7 linked regions of the Homo sapiens genome follow. The protein of the gene in region 2 interacts with the protein of the main gene of each other region in a pairwise test. Each region holds a gene or a part of one and is shown on either strand. Other genes may lie near its edges. The genes, in order: CCDC13, CCHCR1, MAD1L1, NINL, VPS9D1, DEUP1 and BICD2.

Region 1 (3,500 bases), on a different chromosome or scaffold from region 2:
CAAAGTCCCAGAATTGAGTGTCTTTGGTCTAGCCTGGGTTATGTGACCATCCTTGAGCCCATCACTGTAGCCAAGAGTACAGGGTGTTTTGATTGGTCAAGCTTCAGACACCTGCCCCAAGGTTTGAGGGGATGAGTTAGCCTCCCCAAACTTGCAATGAGAGTAGGGAGTAGGGGCCACTTTAAAGAAGGTAACAGAAGCAGCATGAAGAGGTGCAGGCAGGCCATACAACAGGCCCACGTAGTGGCCCTGGCAGTGAGCTACCTAACAGTGAGGACTTGCCTTTTCATCTGGAGACTTTTGCCTGTGAGCACCAACGCTGGGTTAGGCCCTGTGTTAGGAATGCTGTAACCATGACCACATTGCACCTCCCAGCGCTGTAGACCATCAGCTGTGAGGAGGGAAACAGTGAGACCACAGAAGTGGACAGGGCCTGCTGGGCTTTGTATGCCAGCCAGGACTTTTGGCCTGTATCTTGAAGGCTGTGGAGAACCACCAAACGGTTTTTGTTTTTTTTTAGATAGAGTCTCGCTCTGTTGCCCAGGCTGGAGTGCAATGGTGTGATCTTGGCTTACTGCAACCTCCGCCTCCGGGGTTCAAGTGATTCTCCTGCCTCAGCCTCCCAAGTAGCTGGGATTACAGGCACCTGCCACCATGCCCGGCTAATTTTTATATATTTAGTAGAGACAGGGTTTCACTGTGTTGGTCAGGCTGGTCTCAAATTCCTAACGTCAGGTGATCCACCTGCCTCGGCCTCACAAAGTGCTGGGATTACAGGTGTGAGCCATTCGCCGAGCCCACGACAGGGTTTTAATTTGTGGAGGGAGGTGGTCAGCTGTGCATTTTGGAAAGGTCACATGGTTGGAGCAAGAGGAGGAATGGGTTGGAAGAGGAATGGAAGGCAGAATAGTAATCCTGGAGACATGACCAAAGATCTTTGCCAAGATAGTGGACTGTCATGGAAGGGCCAGACACCTGGGACAGTGAGGACAGACTTTCTAGGGCTCAAGGACTGATTGGACTTGGAAGAGAGATGAGGAGGAAGAGTTATAAAGGACTTCTAGGGAGTATAGTGGGTGGGTAAGGGAGACAGGGTGGGTTCAAGAAGAGAAAGGGAGTTGAGATTTGGAAATGCTGGGTTTGAAATGCACCTAGCTTGAACTTACATGTTAGTGCAGAACAGATTATGTTGAACAGTTGGGCTGACCATAAGCTGCAATAGCGGGTGGAAGGAAACAGCTTCCTGCATGCATTCCCTCTGGCAGGCACCCATAAGAGCCTGGAGTGTGTAGGCAGGAGAGCAACAGGTGAGTAATGGCTGCCTCCCTGCAAAGGGCTTGTGTCCTATAGATTCATGTTTTACTTGTTTTGCATTTCTATAATTCACTTCATCAAGGATATGAAAATACTTTTCCAGCAACAATTCACCCTCAGGATCAAGCAGGTGATGTCACCCACTGCCCAAGCTCCTCCCCAATGTCTCCATCTTGTCTTTATGGGTTTGCCTAATCTAACCTCTGCCCCTTCACTCACTGTGCTCCAGCCACACACCTTCTACCCCAGGGCCTTTGCTCTTCCCTTCATCTCCTTCAGTCTCTGCTCAGATGCCACCTTTTCAGAAAGGCCTTACCTGACCATATCCTTCTCGCTATTCCTGTTTCCTACTTTCAAATTAGCATTTGTCACTATTTGACATTATCTGTCTCCTCCATTAGGATTATCAGCTCCTTGAGGACAAGGACTGTTTTGCTTTTTGCTGTCCCCCAGCATCTATAACAATACTAAGCCCATAGTAGGCCCTCAGGAAACCATAGTAGGAAACCTCAGGAAACCCATAGTAGGCCCTCAGGAAACCCTCGAGAATGAAGGGATGATTGAATGAGAGACTCCGAAGATGTGTGCTGCATGTGAGTTTCCAGTTGGTAGCTGACAAAGCAAGGTGCTGTCAGGGGTTGTGCCAAATAATCATGGAGGAAGTGGGAGAAAAGACCCTCCTTTCTCATTCTAGCTCCTGGTGGTGCAAGGTGCTGCAGTTGGAACCTAGCCCAGCACTCTTTTTCTAAAGTATGGCTTTTCTCTTTTCCCCTGCTTGGGGAGGGGCTTAGGGGTAGGACTGGCTGTGCTCTCTGGAGGACACACGCAGTTGGCTGGCGGCTTTCCTCTCATGTGCTAGGAAGTCTGTGTCTCAGGCTGAGGTTAGGAGTGCTGTCATGGGTTAGTGCTGTCATGTGCTAGGGGAAGGGTGGGAGGCTGCTGGCCACCTGATATCCCTGAGAGGCCTGGGCTGGGAGTCAGGGCCCTGGCTCTAGTGACTTGCTCTGTGGCATTCAACAAGCACCCCCACCCCCAGCCCCGGGCCTTGCCATTGAGTAGGAGCCAGGGAGCAGATGTGGCCAAGGTCCCACACAGCCCTGCTGCCCATGCCCTCACTTTCTAATTACAGAAACTTGCCAGTGAACGGGATGTCCTCCAGAGAGAGCTTGAAGAGCTAAAAAAGAAGTTCGAGGGCATGAGGTCTCGGAACAAGCTGCTGTCAAGTGAGATGAAGACCCTCAAGAGTCAGATGGGAACCCTGGTGGAGAAGGGCCGGCATGATGACGAGCTCATCGACGCCCTCATGGTATGGCCCCACCACTCAGGCAGGGCGAGAGCCAGGGGTGGTTCCTCAAAGGATGGGCCCCAGCCATGGCCAGAGTGAGCCCTCACTCACCCCTCAATGCCACCTGTGTAACCCCAAAGCCCGTTGCCTCCAGATGGCCCCCAGTACCAAAGCCCTGCCCCAGGGACAGGAGCAGCTCAGGGAGGCTGCCTGAGGGCAGGTAGGGGGCTGTGATGGAGCAGCACCAGGCACAAGGCACTGGGCCTATGGACCCCAAAAGAGACAGAAATGTATTGGGGGAAGGAGGTGGGATTATACCCTGGGTTATTTTTCAGCAAGGAATGAAAGGGACAAGAGGAGCCAGTACCAGTTCTTATCTCTGCAGTGGCACAGAACCCTTCCTCTTCTGGGCATGTTATAATGCTTAGTCCCTAAGATAACTTCTAGGATCATATATTTTAATCCCACTTCACAGATGGGGAAACTAAGACTCAAATTCATTAGATAACTCATCTAAGACCATACAACTGAGTTCAAAGCAGGTTTATCTGACTATAAAAACTTCCTGGATTAAACGTATCTCAAAATAATAAGAGCTATTTATGACAAACCCACAGCCAATATCATACTGAATGGGCAAAAACTGGAAGCATTCCCTTTGAAAACCAGCACAGGACAAGGATGCCCTCTCTCACCACTCCTATTCAACATAGTGTTGGAAGTTCTGGCCAGGGCGATCAGGCAAGAGAAAGAAATAAAGGGTATTCAAATAGGAAATGAGGAAGTCAAATTGTTCCTGTTTGCAGATGACATGATTGTATATTTAGAAAACCCCATCATCTCAGCCCAAAATCTCCTTAAGCTGATAAGCAACTTCAGGAGTCTCAGGATACAAAATCAA
Region 2 (3,500 bases):
TGTCCGATCTCCCCCAAAACATATCTTCACCTCTCTGTCTCCGTCTCCACTGCCACCAACCCTCATCTTTTGCCTGGGCAACAGCGACCATCTCCTAACTAGTCTTTACAAACCCTCAGTGGCTTCTCACAGCATTCACAACAAAACCCAGGTGTCTCTCCACACCTGCAGGCCAGGGGACCCGGCCTCTGCCTACCTCCTGAGCTCACCCTGGAGGCTCTCCCACTGCTCCCCGCTCCGGCCACGGGGAGTCTGCTGAGAACCAGACAGCGGCCCCTCCTTGCTCCACAGACCCCAGGCGATAGCCCCTCCTCAGGGTGGCTTCACTGGGCCCTCTAATACCGTCCCTCCCCACCCTACTCTGCCCCATCAGCTGTTCACGTCCTCCTGAGCACTTAGCACTGACCATATCTTGCTTATGTGTATGTGTTACTATCTGTCGGACCACACTGGAAGGAAAGCTCCAGGAAAGGAGGAATTTTGTGTCTTTTGCTCATGGCACCTCAAAGGGTTGCAGGGGTGTCAGAGCCACCAAGAGTCATGGGATGGACTGGAAAGGAGGGCAAAGTGCCCACCCTGCTTCCTGGTCTGCCTCCTCTAGCCCTGTCTCCATACAACAATAAAATTAATTTGGGGGACATAAATGACAAAATTTTTTAGACATAAAATACAAATCTAATCATGTTATTTCCCTGCTTAAAACCTTTCAACAGGCCGGGCGCAGTGGCTCATTCCTGTAATTCCAGCACTTTGGGAGGCCGAGGTGGGTGGATCACAAGGTCAGGAGATCGAGATCATCCTGGCTAACATGGTGAAACCCCGTCTCTATTAAAATACAAAAAATTAGCTGGGCGTGGTGGCGGGCGCCTGTAGTCCCAGCTACTCGGAAGAATGACTTGAACCCGGGAGGCGGAGCTGGCAGTGAGCCAAGATCGCGCCACTGCACTCCAGCCTGGGCGACAGAGCGAGACTCCATCTCAAAAAAAAAAAAAAAACAACCTTTCAACGGTTGCTTATTACTTGAAAAAACAATTTTTTTTTGTTTGTTTTTTTGGAGATGGAGTTTCACTTTGTTGCCTAGACTGGAGTGCAATGGCACGATCTCAGCTCACTGCAAACGCTGCCTCCCAGGTTCAAGCGATTCTCCTGCCTCACCCTCCTGAGTAGCTGAGATTACAGGCATGAGCCACCACGCCCAGCTAATTTTTGTATTTTTAGTAGAGATGAGGTTTTACCATGTTGGCCAGGCTGGTCTCGAACTCCTGACCTCAAGTGATCCACCCGCCTCAGCTTCCCAAAGTGCTAGGATTACACATGTGAGCAACCATGCCCAGCCCTAATTTCTTCCATAAAATAGAGATGGGGGTCTCGCTTTGTTGCCCAGGCTGGTCTCAAACTCCTGGGCTCAAATGATCCTTCCACCTTGGCCTCCCAAAGTGCTAGGATTACAGGTATGAGCCACTGTGCCCAGCCTGCTCATTGCTCTTATGGGAAAGTAGCAAGTTCTGAAGTGGCCAAAGCCTTGTGCCCTGGGCCCTGGGCTCTGCAGCACACTCAGTGCCCCTCATCTCTGTGCCCCAGCCTTCTGGCCTCCTGTCCCCGCCTTCACCTGTTGTCCCACCAAGTGTCTTCCAGCTACCACTGGACTTCACACGCCTCTTCACTGGCCAACTCCTATTCAGCACAAACGGTAGCTTGTTGTTTTTTTAGTCTCGCTCTGCTGCCCAGGCTGGAGTGTGATGTCAGCTCACTGTAACCTCTGTCTCCCAGGTTCAAGCAATTCTCCTGCCTCAGCCTCCCAAGAAGCTGGGGGATTACAGGCGCCCACGACTATACCCGGCTAATTTTTGTATTTTTTTGTAGAGTTCTTCATGTTGGCCAGGTTGGTCTTTAACTCCTGGCCTCAAGTGATCCGCCCACCTCGGCCTCCCAAAGTGCTGGGATTACAGGCATGAGCCACTGTGCCTGGCCTAGCTTCTTGTTTCTAAGTTTCTTTCATAAATCTCCTTTGTCCATTTTCTGATTGGATTGCTGGTCTTTCCCTTACCAATTTCTAGGCACACATTTTATATTAGGGATATTACCCTTTTCTTGTGATCTGAGCTATAAATATAGCTTTTTTTTTTCTTTTTGGCTATTCCTAATGTTCATGTTATAAAGTCAATGGATCAATTTTTTCCTTTATGGCTTCTAGATTTTGGATTTTGACTCACAGGTAGAAAGGCCTTGCCCACTACAAGGTTATAAAGGAATTCTCCCTTGTTTTCTCCCAGTTCCTTTTTTATTTTATTTTTTGAGACAGAGTCTTGCTCTGTCGCCCAGGCTGGAGTGCAATGGCACAGTCTCGGCTCACTGCAACCTCCACTGCCCAGGTTCAAGTGATTCTCCTGCCTCGGCCTCCCAAGTAGCTGGGATTACAGGTGCGCACCACCACGCCTGGTGAATTTTTGTATTTTTAGTAGAGACAGGGTTTCGCCATGTTGGCCAGGCTGGTCTTGAACTCCTGACCTTGTGATCTGCCTGCTTCGGCCTCCCAAAATGCTGGGATTACAGGCGTGAGCCACTGCGCCCAGGGCTATGGTTTCTTTCCTTGACATGTCAACTGGTTACAGTGGCCTTCCCTGAACCCCAGACTAAGTTAGTGCTTTCTAGTCCTTCTCCTTCAAGGCATTCCTCCTGATTGCAATTAATTATGATTAAATTAAATGTGGATGTGTATATCCCCCACGAGGCTGTCAGTTCCATCCACGAAGGCAGGACTCAGGCTAATTTGGTCACTGAGTCTTAGAGATGGCAAAGAGTAAGTACTGAGTTTGAGGACTGAATAATCTCTCTCTCCCAGTCCACCATAGCCCCCTTATACCCACCTTCCTCACTGCCCTCCACAATACCCCTGATGAATTGGTACCTGGAGTAAAGTAGGGAGGCAAACTATTTCCTACTAGAAAGGGAAGCAGGGCTTCAAGTGGTGGGAGGCCACCTGAGTCTTGGGGGAAAAGTGCAACCTGAATTAAGATAAAAGTACCCAAATTCTCCATCTTTCTAGGCCATGTGTGTTTATTTTCACCAAAGGTCTCATCACTCTACTACTCACTACTCATGGAGGGTCTTTTCTGCAATACCTGTTCTTTGCTTGGAAGCTACTGCCCAGCTCTCCGTTATGAATTTGAATCCTTTCTACCCCTGCATTCACCTGCTCTTGGTGCAGCCTCTGAACCTCTTCCAGCTCCCGCTGGCTCCCCTCTTCCAAGTTCTTCCGGACAACCTCAGCCCCAGCCAAAGCAGCACGCAGGCCCTCAGCCTCAGCTCGGCCGGCCTTCTCCGCCCGTGCCAGAGCCTCTAGCTCCATGGCCTGGGCCTCTAGCCTCATCTTCTGCTGCAGCGAGGTCTCCCGCAGGAGCCGGACCTCCTCCTCCAGCCGCCGCAGCTCTTGCAGCTGCCGAACGATCACCTCAGCCTGCTGGCTCAGGGCCTGTGACCCCTCCAGCCCCCAGGACCTT
Region 3 (3,500 bases), on a different chromosome or scaffold from region 2:
AGACCCTGGGCCCGGGCAGGACCTCTTCCAGTCTTCTGTAGTTGAGGTGGGTCGGTATTAGCAGAGCCTAGAGACAGCTATTCGTCTCCCAGGTCTCACTATGGGCACTCCTCATTTTGGGGTCGTAGCTGGAGGCTAGTTGGGGCCCTGAGCCATCCTGGCTTAAAGGCCTGCCTTGTTAGCGCCCTGAGTGGGCCTGGCGCTCAGCATTGCGTTCACACAAGTGCACTCACAGACCCTGGTGACAGGATCGGAAAGCCAGTTCATTCATCTAATTGAGGACAGAACCCAAACTGCCTGGGGGAGTGAGCACCAGGACTGTCGGGAAGGCTGTGTTGGAAACACAGTGCTGAGAGTGCCTGGGCAGCCCAGAGACAAAGCCACAGCAGTGAGCAGAAGGACTGGGTGTTTTGTGGTCTCAGACTGTGGAGGGCCATTTACAGATTTTGGGGTGATTTTTACAGTTTTCTTCTATAAAATAGTTGTATTTTGTTTCATTACAAGTTCTTGGGGTTTCTCACTGTAGACACAACTGCAGAGGATTCAGGCCTCCTGAAGGACTTCAGGCTCCAAAGAGTGATGAGCCCAGTCCCAGTTGGGGCTGCGATAATGGGGCCCCCAAGTTGTAGGGAGTGGTGGGGAGTGGAGTGCTGGCTAGTAGTGTCTCCAGCCTTGCCTGGGCCCTGTGGCTGCGCAGGCTCCTCTAGGCTCCTCTGCCTGGACCCTCTTTCCCAGTCCCTGCTGCGGTCCCCAGAGCCGTTCTGTAGTTCTGTCCGCATTAGAGGAGGCTCTGGCTTCCTGCGCTCTCAGAGCCCAGATGAGGCCCTGCTGCATTTGGTTAAACTGTGTGTGCGTGTGCATTTGTTTTGTTGCATAATTGAATTAATGTGTGTTTATTAGAATGCTAGCTTGTGGCCAGATGTGGTGGCTCAGGCCTGTAATCCCAGCACTTTGGGAGGCTGAGGTGGGCGGATCATGAGGTCAGGAGATCAAGATCATCCTGGCTAACACGGTGAAACCCTGTCTCTACTAAAAATACAAAAAATTAGCTGGGCGTGGCACCTGTAGTCCCAGCTACTCGGGAGGCTGGAGCAGGAGAATGGTGTGAACCCGGGAGTCAGAGCTTGCAGTGAGCTGAGATTGCGCCACCGCACTCCAGCCTGGGTGACAGAGTGAGACCCTGTCTCAAAAAAAAAAAAAGAATGCTAGTTGCTAGCTTGCTCACTGCCCTTTCTTGATGAGGACTGTTTTTTATTCTGAGATTAGGTCATATATATATATATGTGTGTGTGTATATATATAATATTTATGTAAATGTTCTTTTGTGAAATTATGAAGGTAATAGATGGTAGTTGTTTTTTATCACTGACAAAATGAGAAGTGGCCAACTCTGAGCTGGTTGCAGTGGCTCATGCCTATAACCCCAGCACTTTGGGAGGCTGAGGTGGCTGGATCACTTGAGGTCAGGAATTTGAGACCAGCCTGACCAACATGGTAAGACCTCATCTCTACTAAAAATACAAAAATTAGGCGGGTGTGGGCACCTGTAATCCCACCTACTCGGGAGGCTGAGGCAGGAGAATCGCTTGAACCTGGGAGGCGGAGGTTGCAGTGAGCCATCGCGCCACTGCACTCCAGCCCGGGTGACAGAGTTGGCAACTCTGGTCTGAAATGCTGTGATTTTAGTGTTGCGAATGTCTGGGACCTCTTGGCCTGTCTGTCAAAGCTGTGGGATTCTAGAGTCTGTCTTGGGGCTCGGAGGCCCCCAGTGCTCACTGGTAAAGGCCTCTCGGTGAGGGGATCAGTGATGGAGTGCGGTAGTCAGAGCAAGGTGGTGAGCGGAGTGATGGCGGCAAGACCAGCCTTGGTCCCTGGCCCCTGTCACATCCCATTCCTGGACTTCGTCGTGGTTCTCTCTCTCCTGCTGAGCCCCCGGCGTGGCAGGGAGGGCCTGGAGAACATGGCAGGCCGGGGGAATGTGTGCTGTCTGGTTTCTCACACATCGTGTTGATTTAACGTAAGGGTAAACTTTCAGGGTTCCTTTCTTTCCGTTGTAGTCAGCTCCAGGCAGAGGTGGCACACGGATCAGGTGTGTCTGGGACTCCTGGTCCCTGCCGGTCGTGCCCCCTGCAGGCGGGGTGCCCACCCTTCTCGAGAGGCTCAGGCTTGACTGCAGACACAGAAGTGAGACCAGGAAGGCTGCTGAGTTTGAAGGGCAGTCTTAGGAACGCCCAAACAGCAGCAGCTGAGAATCGAGACACAGTAACATAGGAGTAAAGGAAGTGTGGGCTTGGGCCACCAGAGAACACAGGTGGGAGGACAGAGAAACTTCCCTCCCCTGTCCCAGGCTTTCCTGGCCTTGGCACGCTTGGCATTTGGGCTGGGTAATTCTTTTTTCTCAGGACTTTCTTGTGCATTGTGGGCTGTTTAACAACTTCCCTGGCCTCTACCCCCTGGACGCCAGCCAGCAGCAGACACATGTGACCACCCCCCTGTGACAATCAGGTGTCTCCAGACAGGGCCAGATGTTCCCAGGGGCAAAACTGGACCCCACTGGGAACCACCACTCTACTCTGGTGCTTCTCAACCTTTCATGTGCATGTGAACGCCCTGAGAATGTGTCTAAAAAGAAGTTTCTTTTTTTCTTTTGGAGATAGGGTCTTACTCTGTCATCCAGGCTGGAGTGCAGTGGTACAATGTTGGCTCACTGCAGCCTCCGTCTCCTGGGTTCAAGTGATTCTCCCTCCTCAGCCTCCCGAGTAGCTGAGATTACAGGTGCGTTACCACCACACTCGGCTAATTTTCATAGTTTTGAGTAGAGACAGGGTTTCACCATGTTGGCCAGGCTGGTCTCAAACTCCTGACCTCAAGTTATGTACCCACCTTGGCCCCCCGAACTGCTGGGATTACAGACGTGAGCCACCACGCCTGGCCTAGATTCTTTTGTTTTTTTTTTTTTGAGACGAACTCTTGCCCTGTCATCCAGGCTGGAATGCAGTGGTGTGATCTTGGCTCACTGCAACCTTCGCCTCCTGGGTTCAAGCGATTCTCCTGCCTCAGCCTGAGTAGCTGGGGTTACAGGTGCGTACCACCACGACCAGCTAATTTTTGTATTTTTAGTAGAGACGGGGTTTCCCCATGTTGGCCAGGCTGGTCTTGAACTCCTGGCCTCAAGTGATCCACCCGCCTTGGCCTCTCAAAGTACTGGGATTACAGGTGTGAGCCACCACACCCAACCTAAAGAGAAGATTCTGACTGAGTAGGTCTGGGGTGTAGTCTGCGACTCTGCATTTGTTAAGTGCCGGGAGATGCTGCACTGCAAGGCTCTGGGCCACGTGAAGAGTCAGTGACTCTGCCTTTTCCTCCAGCTGAGCAGGTCGTACCCAAAGGCCGGCTCTGGAACTATTTGGCAAGTCTTCTGGGGCTCTTTGAGGCTCAGCTAACCTGTAATCACTAGCCCTGTGTGGTAGGCAGACTTCTGAGAGGGCCCCCAGGAGCTC
Region 4 (3,500 bases), on a different chromosome or scaffold from region 2:
GCAGTATGAGGACTGTTAGCTCAAAGTCCCATTTTTATTTTATTTATTTATGTTTTAGAGACAGGGTTTCACTGTGTTGCCTGGCTTGACTTGAACTCCTGGGTTCAAGCATTCTCCCACCTCAGCCTCCCAAGTAGCTGGGACTACAGGCATGTGCATGACTCCATTTAATTTAATTTAATTTAATTTTGCTTGAGCTTTACTGCTTGATCAAATTCCTTTTTTTTTTTTTTTTTTTGGAGATGGAGTCTCGCTCTGTCACCCAGGCTAGAGTGGTAGTGGGCGATCTCCGCTCACTGCAAGCTCCACCTCCCAGGTTCACGCCATTCTCCTGCCTCAGCCTCCTGAGTAGCTGGGACTACATGCGCCCGCCACCATGCCCGGCTAATTTTTTCTATTTTTAGTAGAGACGGGGTTTCACCGTGTTAGCCAGGATGGTCTCGGTCTCCTGACCTCATGATCCACCTGCCTCAGCCTCCCAAAGTGCTGGGATTACAGGTATGAACCACTGCGCCCAGCTAATCAAATTCCATTTTTAAGCAAGAGTATTAAGGACTTAATGAATTGTGCTTTGCTTTTTGTGGCTTTGTGTGCGTGTGTGCGCCCATGGAAATAACATTTCAGGGCCGGGCGAGGTGGCTTATACCTGTAATCGCAGCACTTTGGGAGATTGAGGCGGGCAGATCACTTGAGGTCAGGAATTTGAGACCAGCCTGACCAACATGGTGAATCCCCGTCTCTACCAAAAATAGAAAAATTAGCCAGGTGTGGTGGGGCACACCTGTAATCCCAGCTACGCCAGAGGCTGACATGGAAGAATCGCTTGATCCTGGGAGGCGGAGGTTGCAGTGAGCCAAGATTGCGCTACTGCACTCCATGGGCGCCAGAGTGAGATTCCGTCTAAAAAAAAAAAAAATCACGCCTGTAATCCCAGCACTTTGGGAGGCCGAGGCAGGCAGATCACCTGAGGTTGAGAGTTCAAGACCAGCCTGACCAACGTGGAAAAACCCCATCTCTACTAAAAATACAAAATTAGCCAGGTGTGGTGGTACATGCCTGTAATCCCAGCTACTCCATAGGCTGAGGCAGGAGAATCTCTTGAACCTGCGAGGTGGAGATTGCAGTGAGCCGAGATCGCGCCATTGCATTCCAGCCTGGGCAACGAGAGTGAAACTCCATCTCAAAAAAAAAAAAAAGAAAAGAAAAGAAAATATTTCAGAAAAATGAGTCTGTTCCTGGGACTAGGACAGTAGTAAGCCCCGAGCTTCTGCTGGCCCCACACAAAGAGGGGTGGTGGGCTCCCCCGCCAGGATGGACCTCACAGGAGCTCTATTCACAAAGAGGACCTCCAGGTTCCCCTTAGAGTCATGGGTGGTGTCAGACCCTAAACATGAGAACCAGCATCAGTCAATATAGTGCAATATTCACTAACTTGGAGTTTTCGTTTCAAGGGCATAGGAATGTAGTAAACAGCTATTAATTATTTAAAAATCAACAGGGAGAGTCTGCTCGGTGCAGATTTTGAGTAGGTTGTCCCAACCCCAGGGAGAGCTCCTTGTATCTGGAAGGCCTCTGCCTGTCCTGTACTCAAGTGACCTGAGGAGGGATGTGCTGGACTGTCCGGCCACGTGGCCTTGGGACTTCCAGCCATGCTCGGGAGGAGGACAAAACCAGGCAGGCAGAAGTGGGTAGCGTGCCAGGTCTCCAACACAGGAGAGGCGGCAGGGCCTTGAACAGACTTGGGGACGCGTGTCTCCATGTGGACCAGTGAGTAAAACTGAGTACCCACGGTCCTGGGATGACCAGCAGGGACTCCAGAGGGCGGGCTGCAGCCCGGCCAGTTAGCTCCCTGCTTCAGGCAACGTTGTCACTGCTCTCCAAGGCCCCAAATGAAGGTAAGTGACAGGCTGAGATTTTCCCCAACTCTGGGTAGGGACAGAAACGTGGATGCCCAATTTCGGAACCCCACAATCTACATTAATGGCCTGTACTGATTTCTGGTACGGTTCCTCAGGAAACTGTGTCAAGCAGGATGTTTGCAGGGGCAGGTCTGAAGTGGACACAGTCCACAGCCTGCATAGTTCAAGACCAGCCAGGCCTTGCTCTGTGGCAAAAGTTTTAAACTGTACTTGATAGTGTACACTGTTGCACAGCTTTAAAGCGAAGCAATTCTTGATACATTTTAAATTCTTACTGAATTTTTATTATTTCCAACTGTGCACATAAAGTAAGACTCTTATCATTGTAGACTTTCACCACTTAAAATTCTCAGGCTGGCACGGTGGCACATGCATGTAATCCCAGAACTTTGGGAGGCTGAGGTGAGAGGATCTCTTGAGTTCAGGAGTTCGAGACCAACCTGGGCAATGTACTGAAACCCCATCTCTACCAAAAAAAAATGAAAAATTAGCTAGGCACAGTGGCATGTGCCTGTGGTTCAAGCTACTTGAGAAGCTGAGGTAGGAGGATCACTTGAGCACGGGAAGTGGAGGCTACAGTGAGTGGGGATGCACCACCGCACTCCAGCCTGGGTAACAGAGCAAGATCTTGTCTCAAAAAAGTAAAATAAAATAAAAATGAATAAACTTCTCATAATTCAAACTCACATAAAGGTGACTACCCTGCTGCAGTCACCATGCTAACCAAGCGATTGCAGTTACTGTCACCAGTTATGAGACATCTGTGCCCCCCATGAGATGTGCCAAGGACACACCTGACCCAGGTGTTCCTGCCACCCTTGAATCTAATTGTGCAGACACCAGACAGACTCTGGGACATTCTACATAACGCCCTGCCTGTGTCTACTCCAAAGACTTCAAAGTTCAGAAACAGAGACTGAGAAAATGGTCTGGTTTAAAGGGACAGGAAAACCGTGTACAGTGCTTGTCTCTGAATTGGAAACTGGACTGGGGTGAAAAAGATAGCTGTAAAGGACATTGTTGGCACCATGGACAGAATTTGATCTGAATGGTGGATTGTATAAATGTCAAATTTCCCTAGTTTGTTGTACTGTGACTGTCTCCTTGAGCTTAGTGAATACATTTTGAACTATTTAGGGATACAGGGGCACAAAGTCTGATACCCGATTTCAAATGGAGAAGGAGAGGAGCAGGGGTAGATAGATGATATGGAGGGAGGGAGGAAGTGAGGGAGAGAAAATGACAAAATGGTTGTGGTAAAGGGGAAAAGTGGAAACAGGTGGTGAAGCCAGCCGAGTGAGGGAGTATTGGAGAATTTTTTGTACTATTCTTACAAGTTTTTTTTTTTGTTGTTTTGTGTTTTTTTTGAGACTGAGTACTTGCTCTGTCGCCCAGGCTGGATGGCGCGATCTCGGCTCACTGCAACCTTTGCCTCCTGGGTTCCAACAATTCTCCTGCCTCAGCCTCCTGAGTAACTGGGATTACAGGCCCACGCCACCATGCCCAGCTAATTTTTTACTTTTTAGTAGAGACGGGGTTTCACCATGTTGGCCGAGCTGGTCTCGAATTCCTGACCTCATG
Region 5 (3,500 bases), on a different chromosome or scaffold from region 2:
CGGGGGAGCCCCTGGACGTGGGATCACAGAGGTCGGGGCAGCCACTGGACGTAGGATCACACAGGTCAGGGGGAGCTAACAGTTGCCCCAGCTCCCTAGGGAGCCGGTGAGCTCGGCTGAGCTCTGGCGCTCCAAGATTGAGGAGTTGGGTGGAGGAGTGGCAGAGGATCCCCTGGGGAGAGCAAAGTCCCAGAAGACAGAGGAACTCCAGTGGCCCACCGTGTCTGGCAAGGTGGGGACGGGTAAGGGCAGTTTCCGGGGGGAGTCGGGGGCTAAATCGGGGCGGGATGAGAAAATGGGAGTCTATGAGAAGTTTTCTGTGAAGGGCAGCAGGGAGGTGGGTCAGGCGCTGGGGCGGTGGGTCCAGGGGCGAGTCACAGAGAGGCAGCTCCCACGGCGCGCAGAAGGGCTGTGTGAGCAGGTCCATGGTCGCGCAGAGGTGCTCCATGCCAAGCTACGGGAAGGCAGGACTTTGGGGACACAGCCGGTGGGAGATGGGTGAGGCGATCCCCTCAGCACGTCCTTGTCTCTGTAAAACGGCCACTTCCCAGAGGCCTGCAGTTGCAAGTGAAGCTGAGTGAGCACTAAAGGCCTGTTTAGGGTCGAGGCTGTGACGGGCCTCGATGAGGGGCCCACAGCCTTAGCAGACTCAGGAGGCAAAACCAGGGCAGATGATTAGAAATGCGTGGGTGGGGGGACTTGCCTGGGGTCCATGGTGGGGGCAGGGGCCTTGCCTGGGGTCCATGAGGAATAGTCGGCTTGCCCGGGGTCAGTGGGGGGTGGAAGGGGCAGTGGGCTTACCCGGGGTGAGGGGATGGGGGGGCAGTGGGCTTGCCTAGGGTCAGTCAGTTGGGGGACGGGAGGGGCAGTGGGCTTACCCGGGGTGAGGGGATGGGGGGGCAGTGGGCTTGCCCAGGGTCAGTGAGGGGATGGGGGGGCAGTGGGCTTGCCCGGGGTCAGTGGGGGTGCTGAGGGGGGCAGTGGGCTTGCCTGCCTTTTCCGTTGCCTCATTTTATCTCAGCAGTAAGTAACAGTGGTAGAGCCGACTGTGACCAGCCTTCTTGTCCCTCCCCCAGAAGCTGGGGAAACTGTGCCCCCCGACACCTCCAAGATGCTGAAGCTAGCACAGCAGTGTCTGGAGAGGGCCCAGTCGACGGCCGCCAAGCTTGGTGGGTCTCCTGCAGTAGGCGGCTCTCCTGGGGCATCCCCCAAGCCCGCATCTCCTCTGTGGGATGTGGCCCACCGCTTGACCCCTGGTTACCCATGGCTTGCAGGGAAAACACGCCTGAAGCCAACCATGCCTGCAGCTGCTCCCATTCCCCAGCCTGCCGGCCGACACCGCCGTGTATACTCCGATGAAGGAGGAAAGCTCTCTCCTTTTCTGCCACCCGAGATCTTCCAGAAGCTTCAGGGGGCAGAGTCACAAAGCTGTAAGAAGTAAGATGGACAAGATGGGAGGTGGGATGAGCCTGGGATTGGGTTTTTGAGGCTGAGAAAGATGAGCTGATGACAGCGATTTTTTTTTTGTTTTTTGAGACAGAGTCTCACTCTGTCACCCAGGCTGGAGTGCAGCGGCTCAATCTTGGCTCACGGCAACCTCCACCTCCCGGGTTCACACCATTCTTCTGCCTCAGCCTCCCAAGTAGCTGAGACTACAGGCGCCCACCACCACACCCAGCTAATTTTTTGTATTTTTAGTAGAGACGGGGTTTTGCCATGTTAGCCAGGATGGTTTCGATCTCCTGACCTCGTGATGCGCCTGCCTCGGCCTCCCACAGTGCTGGGATTACAGCGTGAGTCACCGCGCCCGGCCCCCACAGTGCTGGGATTACAGGCATGAGCCACTGCGCCTGGCCTGACAGCGAATGTTTTTAAAATGAGTCCCAGAATGGGAATATCCCCTGGCCGGACACAAGCAAATGCAGGCGGCCTGGTGGCTCACGCCTGTAATCCCAGCACTGTAGGAGGCCGAGGCGAGCAGATCACCTGAGGTCAGGAGTTCCTGACCAGCCTGGCCAACATGGTAAAACCCCGTCTTTACTAAAAATACAAAAATTAGCTGGCCGTGGTGGTGTGCACCTGTAATCCCAGCTACTCAGGAGGCTGAGTCCAGGAGAATCGCTTGATCCTGGAAGGTGGAGGTTGCAGTGAGCGAAGATTGTGCCACTGCACTCCAGCCTGGGCAACAAGAGTGAAACTCCGTCTCAAAAAAAATTAGGCATAGTGGTGTGCCCCTGTAGTCCCAACTACTAGGGAGGCTGAGGTGGGAGGCTCACTTGAGCCTGACAGGTTGAGGGTGCAGTGAGCCGTGATTGTGCCAGTGCACTCCAGCTTGGGCAACAAAATGAGACTCTGTCTAAAAAAAAAAAAAATGACCGGGCGCGGTGGCTCACGCCTGTAATCCCAGCACTTTGGGAGGCCGAGGTGGGTGGATCATGAGGTCAGGAGATCGAGACCATCCTGGCCAACAAGGTGAAACCCCATCTCTACTAAAAATACAAAAAATTAGCTGGGCGTGGTGGCGGGCACCTATAGTCCCAGCTACTCAGGAGGCTGAGGCAGGAGAATCCCTTGAACCCAGGAGGCAGAGGTTGCAGTGAGTTGAGATTGCGCCACTGCATTCCAGCCTGGGCGACAGAGCAAGACTCCATCTCAAAAAAAAAAAAAAAAAAATTTAGCTGGGAACAAGGATGAGTTATATATCTATATATATGTAGAAATCCATACATACAAAACTGAGCAGACAAGTTTATAACAGCAGAGCAGATATAGCTGAAGAGCAAATTCATGTATTGGAAAAAAGGTCAAAAGATAGCTAGAATGAATTACAGAAACAAAAAATAAAGACAGAAAACAAGAGATGGAAAGCCTAACGTGTTCGTTGGAGTTCCAGAAAGAAAATGGGAGGGAGGCCAAGGCAGGCAGATCACAAGGTCAGGAGTTCAAGACCAGCCTGGCTAACATGGTGAAACCCCATCTCTACTAAAAATACAAAACTTAGCTGGGCATGGTGGCGCGTGCCTGTAACCCCAGCTACTTGGGAGGCTGAGGCAGGAGAATCGCTTGAACCCAGGAGGTGGAGGTTGCAGTGAGCCAAGATCGTGCCACTGCACTCCAGCCTAGCAACAGAGCGAGACTCCGGCTCAAAAAAAAAGAAGAAAGAAAATGGGAGAGAGGCATTATTAGAAGTTAGAATGGCAGACAGTTGTCTAGAACTGATGAAAGATACAAAGACACAAATGCAAAAAGCCCAGTGACTCCCAAGTGGGAGAGACGAGAAGGGTCCACTCCTCCTGCCCCTGCTCTGGCGGGGCCTGGCTTCCCAGTCCCCTTGTTTCTGCAATGTGGCTTCAGGGCAGGGTGGCCAGGCGTCAGGCTCTGACTTTCCTCCTTGTCCTCCATTGTCCCTGACAGTGGGAAGGTACGAGGGAACAAAGCTTTCAAGGTGGAGTGGCTGTTGGGAACTGTATAAAGGAGACAGGACACTTCTTCCTTTCATG
Region 6 (3,500 bases), on a different chromosome or scaffold from region 2:
AGGGATGATGCCATATCAAGAGCTCAGCTTTGGTTTCTGTTGCAAGCAGGTCAGACATTCAACAGCAATAGCAGCTGGATTACCCTTGGTGAAAGGGGAAATCATGGTATTGGGATGATGCATAATTCCCACTGAGGTAGCCAAAGACAAAGGCTGGATCAAATCATCCTGTCCACTTGCTGGAGTCTCAACCAGGACTCAACAGCATGACAAGAATTGTCTTGCAAATAGTATATAGGTTTCTGCTACAGATAGCATAGCCTTGTTCCAGAATCTTAAGGGTCTGCAACACAGCTTTCCCGATGAAACTTGCCAGAGGCTCCACAAGGCATTTTTCTTTACCAGAGATTCTTCTAGTATGGGATCTACCAAGTTATTTGACCAAAGTAGCAGGACTACTTGTACCCTATCCTGAACCTCCTACACAGCTCTTTCTTTCCAGAGTTCTGGGCTTTCTCACAAAATAATTTTTTCACCAGGCATGGTGGCTCACGCCTGTAATCCCAGCACTTTGGGAGGCCGAGGAGGGCAGATCACGAGGTCAGGAGATCGAGACCATCCTGGCTAACATGGTGAAACCCCGTCTCTACTAAAAATACAAAAAATTAGCCGGGAGTGGTGGCGGGCGCCTGTAGTCCCAGCTACTCGGGAGGCTGAGGCAGGAGAATGGCGTGAACCCGGGAGGTGGAGCTTGCAGTGAGCCGAGATCACGCCACTGCACTCCAGTGTGGGCGACAGAGTGAGACTCCGTCTCAAAAAAAAAAAAAAAAAATTTTTTCTGTGTCACCCAATAAATGAATCAGATTATTCAATTATTTGATCCAAGGGTGGAACATTTTCAAGGTGCATTAATTTTTGCTTTACCTAGGATGTTCTGACATGCCACATAGCAGTAGACACCTAAAAACAATGTGTCAAGCCCCAATCTTTTATGGGGTTTATCTTTCACCTTCTGGAGTACATACATCTTTCCATCCCTTTAACATACTTGCCACTTCTTGCTCATCAAGTCTCATTAACATGATGTTAGTGTTAATATATGATGTTCCATGTGATAGTCTTTGGAATGTCCAGATGGGCTAGGCCCCTTCAGAATTTATTGTGACAGCTTCATTAACATAACTTTGGGGCAAAACCATGGATATATATTGTTGGCCACCACATGTGAATGCTAACTGCTTCCTATCCTCCTTTTTATTAGATATTAAAAAGAATGCATTTGCCAATATTAAAAATAATGCATTTGCCAGATCAATAGTAGCATACCATCTACCCCAGGCTGTGATAGTCTTCTCTAGTAGAGATACTATCCCTGACACAGCAGCTACAGTTGGGCCTACTGGTTGGAAAAGTGTGCAGTACTCCATCATTTGCATGATCCCTAGTTTTGGCAGGGGCCAGATTGGTGAACAAAATCCACCTAACAAGGTTCACATGTATACAGATTGTCGACTCCCCAAACACTACATAAAGTCCCATTCTTCCTACCAAAATGAAAATCAAAGAAGAATATAGCAACCACAGAACTGGAAAATTAAAGTACAGATTTCCCCAACAAAAAAAAATTACTTAATTTTTGTATGTGGCTTTTCAAAACGAAGAATTGTAAAATTATCTGATGTTGTCCTTTATTCTTTAGCCACAGATTTTTATTTTTTTTTAAATAAGCACTAAACAGGTCACAAACAATTAAATAGCATTTTCATGTCACCATGAAGGGTGGAATTGGGGCACTTGTCCCTGATACTTTCTTCTCTGTGATAAGACAAACAAGATACATGCCAGCATCAAGCCTTCCCTACTAGGGAGCCACCTCCACCCCAAGACACATCATGCAGCCAGCCCTCTCACCTGGCTAACTCCAAGCATTGATTCTCCCTGTCAAAGCCAATCCTTATTTTCTTCTCTATAAACTGTCTAGTGCAATTCCACTATAATCTTTACTTTAGCTTTTTGGAGTTGCCTATTTTCAAATGAAAATCATTGGCTTTGCAAATGATTGCAGCATGTTTTAGGCAGGTTCCATGGTGAGTGCATTGTCCCTGCATTTGCAGTTGGACAATATAACACTCATTTGTAGAGCTTTTTAATGTAATGGTGCTGTGATGTCTTACTTAGTTCCTTGAGGATTTCATTAGTGGTAACTGAATTACACTAGTAGTGGGAATTCAGCCCAGGATGTATTCTTTCATTAAGAGCTGCGGTGTTTGACAGTATGTCAGGGATGAAGCATGCCTGGAAATGGGAAGATTTTTTAAAGCTCTGTATTCCTCACTCACTTTTCTTTCTTTCTCTCTTTAGTCTCCCCCAGATATGTCCTTCCCAGCATCTTTGGCTGCACAGCATTTCCTTCTGGAAGAAGAGAAACGAGCAAAAGAACTTGAAAAACTTCTAAATACACATATTGATGAACTGCAAAGACACACAGAATTTACTCTTAATAAATACTCCAAGCTAAAACAAAATAGACACATATGAGCTTTTAAACTTTTTTATTTGCTTCCCCCCCCCACCCCCGCCAAGAAAAAAAGCTCTGGCAAAATATTTACAAAGCTGATTAATGAAACCAAGAAATTCTGTTCTGTTTCCTTGAGTAAATAATTTCCGTAAGGCAGCTAGAAAATAGTAAGTATTTTGTTCTATAAAGCTGTTCACATTTCTGCATTAACATGCTAAATTGTCCTGCTGTAGAGTTACTATAAAATAAACATGACTATTCCAAAAGAGATTTTTTTCCAGTCTAAGGAATATTTTGGAATCAAATATGCAGTTTTTTTTCCCCACTTGAATCATGTATACTGAAAACCCATTTCCTCAGCAACTACACAAAATAAGAGAAAGGGAAGTGCTATATTCCAGATACAAATGACTCAAAGGCAGCTCAGTTGTACTGGTTTTGAAAACTCAAGGATTTTATAAATAAAAATATTTAAGTATTTCCAGTTATGTAAACACTCTAAAATTCTATAATTTTTTGGAAAAAAAAAGCTATAGCTTTATTGTTTTTACATTCACCTTTATAATGTCTGTCTGTTTCAACACAATGAAGGTATATGGAATGTGCAATTTACAAACCTAAAATATATGTGCCAAAAATTAACGCTTTTTTGTTAGTACTAATTACTTCATGGACACAAACAAGATAAAGGAAATATAAAGCATTACTGTTGCTACATTTTCCTTTGTAATCACTTCTGTTTTTAATACAATAAAGGAATGTAAAATTCAATGGACTTGAAGCATAAATGCTAAATCTGTATAGAACAGTAATAGCATGGCTGTGAACAATAAAACAGAGTTACAAATACACAGCAATAATACAATATACTTTAAGAGTTTCACATATGTGTGTGTGTGTATATATATGTCTCTCTCTCTCTCTATATATATATATATATGTATATATGAAGAGAGATTATGAAAGAAGGTAAGTCCTACTACAGCTTTTACAGTTCTCTATTTCCCTTTAAAGAAACAATCTCATCATACTGAAAGATAAA
Region 7 (3,500 bases), on a different chromosome or scaffold from region 2:
CGCCACGCCTGGCTAATTTTTTGTATTTTTAGTAGAGACGGGGTTTCACTGTGTTAGCCAGGATGGTCTCGATCTCCTGACCTCGTGATCTGCCCGCCTCGGCCTCCCGAAGTGCTGGGATTACAAGCATGAGCCACCGCACCCAGCCTATCTTCTGAAAGTTTTATAGTTTTAGTTCTTATATTTAGGTATTTGATTCATTTTGAGTTAATTTTTGTGTATAATGTGAGGTAGGGGTTCAGCTTCATTATTTTGCATATATGTATCTACTTGCCCCAGCATCATTTGTTGAAAAACTTTTTTTTTTTTCCTCTGTCGTCCAGGTTGGAATACAGTGGCGTGATCTCGGTTCACTGCAACCTCTGCCTCCTGGGTTCAAACCATTCTCCTGCCTCAGCCTCCCAAGAAGCTGGGATTACAGGCACCCGCCACCACGCCCAGCTAATTTTTTTTTATTTTTAGTAGAGACGAGGTTTCACTATGTTGGCCAGGCTGGTCTCGAACTCCTGACCTCGTGATCTGCCCGCCTCGACCTTCCAAAGTGCTGGGATTACAAGCATGAGCCACCGTGCCTGGCCGAAAAACTATTCTTTGACATCAAATTATTTTTGTACCCTTGCCAAAAATCAATTGACCATATATATGAGGTTTTATTTCTGGACTCTATTCTATCCCGTTGGTCTCTGTATCTATCTTTACACTAGTACCACATTGTTTTGATCACTGTAGCTTTGTATTAAGTTTTGAAATTGTGAGTTCTCTCACGTTGTTATTCCCTTTCAATATTGTTTTAGCTCTTCTAGGCCCTTTGCAATTCCATATGAATTTGAAAATCACCTTTTCCATTTCTGCTAAAAAGGCTTTGGAATTTTGGTAGGGATTGCATTGAATTTCAAGTTAATTATCTTTTAAAGAGATTTAAATAAGAAAAATAAGTACTTTATATTTGCCTATTTAATTATCATTTCTTCCATGTAGATAAAGATTTCCATATGGTATTATTTTTCTTCTGCCTGAAGGATTTTATTTAGCATATCTTTAAATACCAATGCATATCTGCTGTTGATAAATTCTTTCAGCTTTTGTATCTCTAAAGTATTTCACCTCTATTTGTGAACAGTTTTCAGTGAGTATAGCATTCTAGTTAAGTTTTTTTGTTTTGTTGTTTAAAAGATGTTGTTCCACTATCTCCTGGCTTGTTAGAGAAATCAGCTGTCATTTATCTTTGCTCCTCTTGAGTCATGTATCCTTTTTCTTCTGGCTGATTTAAATATTTTTATTATATAATTGGTTTTAAACAATTTTATATTATGCCTTGGTGTAGTTTGCTTCATATTTCTTGTGCTTGGTGTTGACAAGCTGCTGATATCTGTGGGTTTATAATTTTCATCAAATTTGGAAAATTTTCAGCTATGATTTATTTCTTCAATTACTTTTTCTATTTTCCCCTTTTTCTCCTTTGGGTACTCCAATTACTCCTTACATAAGGCTTCTTGAAATTGTGTCATACTTCATACTTCACCAATGCTCTGTTTGAGTCTTGCTTTTGTCTTTTAGCCTTTTTTTCTCTGTGTTTCATTTTGGATAGTTTGCTGTGGTTTTTCAAGTTGACTGATCTTTTCTTCTGCATTGTTTTATCTGCTGTGAATCCCATCCACTGTACTTTTCGTCTCTAGAAGTTCTATCTGGATCTTTTTCTGTCTTCCTCATTTGTGCGCCTTTGCCTGCTCAGTGGTAAGTGACGGGATGCCAGCCAGTGGACCTCACCTGTTGGGAGATGGATGTTTTTGTATTCCTTCATGTGTTCTTGAGCTTTGTTCTGGGATGTAGTTAAGTGACTTGGAATCAGATTGATCCTTTCAGGTTTTGTCTTTATGCTTTGCTCTGTGGTATCAGAGCAGATTTAATCCAGACTAATTTTTTCAGGCCCTGGGAGTGCTCCCCAGCTGCCTGTGCATCAGGAGGGCTCTCCTCTGCTGTTGGGAGCAGGTACTGTTTTTGGCTGGTATAAATGGTGGGGATTGCTTTCTCTGCCCCCTCAGTGGTCCTTCAGTGACTTCTTCAGCTCTGTGCTCCCTGGTCCTCAGTGGAGATTCTGGCCCTGTGTGCAGGTCTGCCTAGCTTGGCTGCCCTGCTGCCATCTTCCGCCATCTTCCAGTCCCTCCTTGACAGGGTCTGCCACGCCTTGCCTCAGTCTCCCATTTTTCCATGGCTGGGAAGTTCTTTTGGTGGAGGGGGCTCCTGGAACTCCCCTCCTCCTGTCTCTCACTATCTAGTGCCCATGATGTGAAAACCACTGCTTATTATTTATTTATATTCTATCATTGCCTGGTTTTTTTCTTTTTCTTTTTTTTTTTTAAGTTTTCACACAGAAGGTAGTTCTAATTTCTGCAACAATCTCATCTTGGCTGTACGCGGAAGTCTGTATCTCAGTGTGTTTGAAAAGCTGCCCAGGAGTGTTTTGGGCCCCAGGCTGGGAGCTTAAGCAGAGGAAAAGATCCAGGGCTCAGGCCAGGAGGCTAGGACTTGAATGTCGTGTCATGGCATTTAGCTGTCATACCTGGAGGAAGCTTCTGAGGTGATGTCTGCATCCCCAGCTCCAGGCTCGTGGGTGTGTTCTGAGCAGCCATGTGTGCTGGACCCTTCATTTGGGTCCCTCCTGCTTGTCAGGAGGCCCAGATGGTCTGGCGCTGCCCATGCCGCCTGCAGCCGGCGGGCCCTTCACCCAATGAGGGACTTGGGGCCTGGCTGCCACTTGGGTGGGGAGCCTGCAGCTGGGGCCAATTCCATGTCCGGTTTCCCTTCTTGTGGCCCGGGGTGGCTGGCCAGGGTGGATGAGGTGCTGTGTAGACATTATGATTTGGACCTTCCTTGGGACTAGGATAAGGAAGAACAGAGCAGAAATCACAGAGCTGACCCGATTGCCTTGAAGAAAAGCGGACATCTTCCACGTAGTGGGTGTTGTGTTGATGGGTGGGGGCAGGTGAGCAAGACCCAGCCTCCTCAGGAGTGTGGGTGCCATAGACATCTGTGCATCCGCAGCAGGAGTGTCCATGTCAATCCCGAGTCCCCCCGTGCAGTCCCATTGCCAGCACCAGTCTTCCTGCTGGGCTGTGTTGTCCTGTTAGCCTTGTTTAGGGGTGTCCCCCGCAACACCACGAGACACACACACACAACACATACATCACAGCACATGTCACCACACCTGCCATAGCACATGTGTGCTCTTCCAGGCAGGATCCTGTGATCCTCACAGTGCTGTAAGATCAATCAGTCTGTCTTCCCCTTGAGTCCCCTGTTGGTCCCATGAGAGTCTATACTCAGACTAGACCCTGGTTTCTTTTACCAGTCTCCTGTTGGGACGAAATGAGTTACTCTTTGTTTTGATTTCTTGAAATTAGAAACTGTCCTGCTCAGTAACATCCTTATTCATGGTTTTTTACATTTTCCCTATTTTCTTGGACTGAATTCTTAGATTTAATATTAAATAGTAAATGAGT

What was found.
Region 1: the proteins of CCHCR1 (region 2) and CCDC13 interact in binary tests that used the Homo sapiens proteins (3 or more experiments, as listed by UniProt).
Region 3: the proteins of CCHCR1 (region 2) and MAD1L1 interact in binary tests that used the Homo sapiens proteins (3 or more experiments, as listed by UniProt).
Region 4: the proteins of CCHCR1 (region 2) and NINL interact in binary tests that used the Homo sapiens proteins (3 or more experiments, as listed by UniProt).
Region 5: the proteins of CCHCR1 (region 2) and VPS9D1 interact in binary tests that used the Homo sapiens proteins (3 or more experiments, as listed by UniProt).
Region 6: the proteins of CCHCR1 (region 2) and DEUP1 interact in binary tests that used the Homo sapiens proteins (3 or more experiments, as listed by UniProt).
Region 7: the proteins of CCHCR1 (region 2) and BICD2 interact in binary tests that used the Homo sapiens proteins (3 or more experiments, as listed by UniProt).

The regions. Positions count from the first base shown.
Region 1 is NC_000003.12:42,738,754-42,742,253, reverse strand, and holds part of CCDC13 (coiled-coil domain-containing protein 13), read left to right. Parts: intron 1-1,166; exon of another isoform or gene 1,167-1,279; intron 1,280-2,443; coding exon 2,444-2,620; intron 2,621-3,500. UniProt on the Homo sapiens protein: Required for primary cilia formation and promotes the localization of the ciliopathy protein BBS4 to both centriolar satellites and cilia.
Region 2 is NC_000006.12:31,151,303-31,154,802, forward strand, and holds part of CCHCR1 (coiled-coil alpha-helical rod protein 1), read right to left. Parts: intron 3,498-3,500; coding exon 3,194-3,497; intron 1-3,193. UniProt on the Homo sapiens protein: May be a regulator of keratinocyte proliferation or differentiation.
Region 3 is NC_000007.14:2,226,446-2,229,945, reverse strand, and holds part of MAD1L1 (mitotic spindle assembly checkpoint protein MAD1), read left to right. Parts: intron 1-3,500. UniProt on the Homo sapiens protein: Component of the spindle-assembly checkpoint that prevents the onset of anaphase until all chromosomes are properly aligned at the metaphase plate.
Region 4 is NC_000020.11:25,575,532-25,579,031, reverse strand, and holds part of NINL (ninein-like protein), read left to right. Parts: intron 1-3,500. UniProt on the Homo sapiens protein: Involved in the microtubule organization in interphase cells. Overexpression induces the fragmentation of the Golgi, and causes lysosomes to disperse toward the cell periphery; it also interferes with mitotic spindle assembly.
Region 5 is NC_000016.10:89,714,399-89,717,898, reverse strand, and holds part of VPS9D1 (VPS9 domain-containing protein 1), read left to right. Parts: exon of another isoform or gene 1-555; intron 556-994; exon of another isoform or gene 995-1,076; coding exon 1,077-1,169; exon of another isoform or gene 1,170-1,274; coding exon 1,275-1,437; intron 1,438-3,500.
Region 6 is NC_000011.10:93,435,242-93,438,741, forward strand, and holds the end of DEUP1 (deuterosome assembly protein 1), read left to right. Parts: intron 1-2,301; coding exon 2,302-2,478; 3' UTR 2,479-3,229; downstream 3,230-3,500. UniProt on the Homo sapiens protein: Key structural component of the deuterosome, a structure that promotes de novo centriole amplification in multiciliated cells.
Region 7 is NC_000009.12:92,730,334-92,733,833, reverse strand, and holds part of BICD2 (protein bicaudal D homolog 2), read left to right. Parts: intron 1-3,500. UniProt on the Homo sapiens protein: Acts as an adapter protein linking the dynein motor complex to various cargos and converts dynein from a non-processive to a highly processive motor in the presence of dynactin.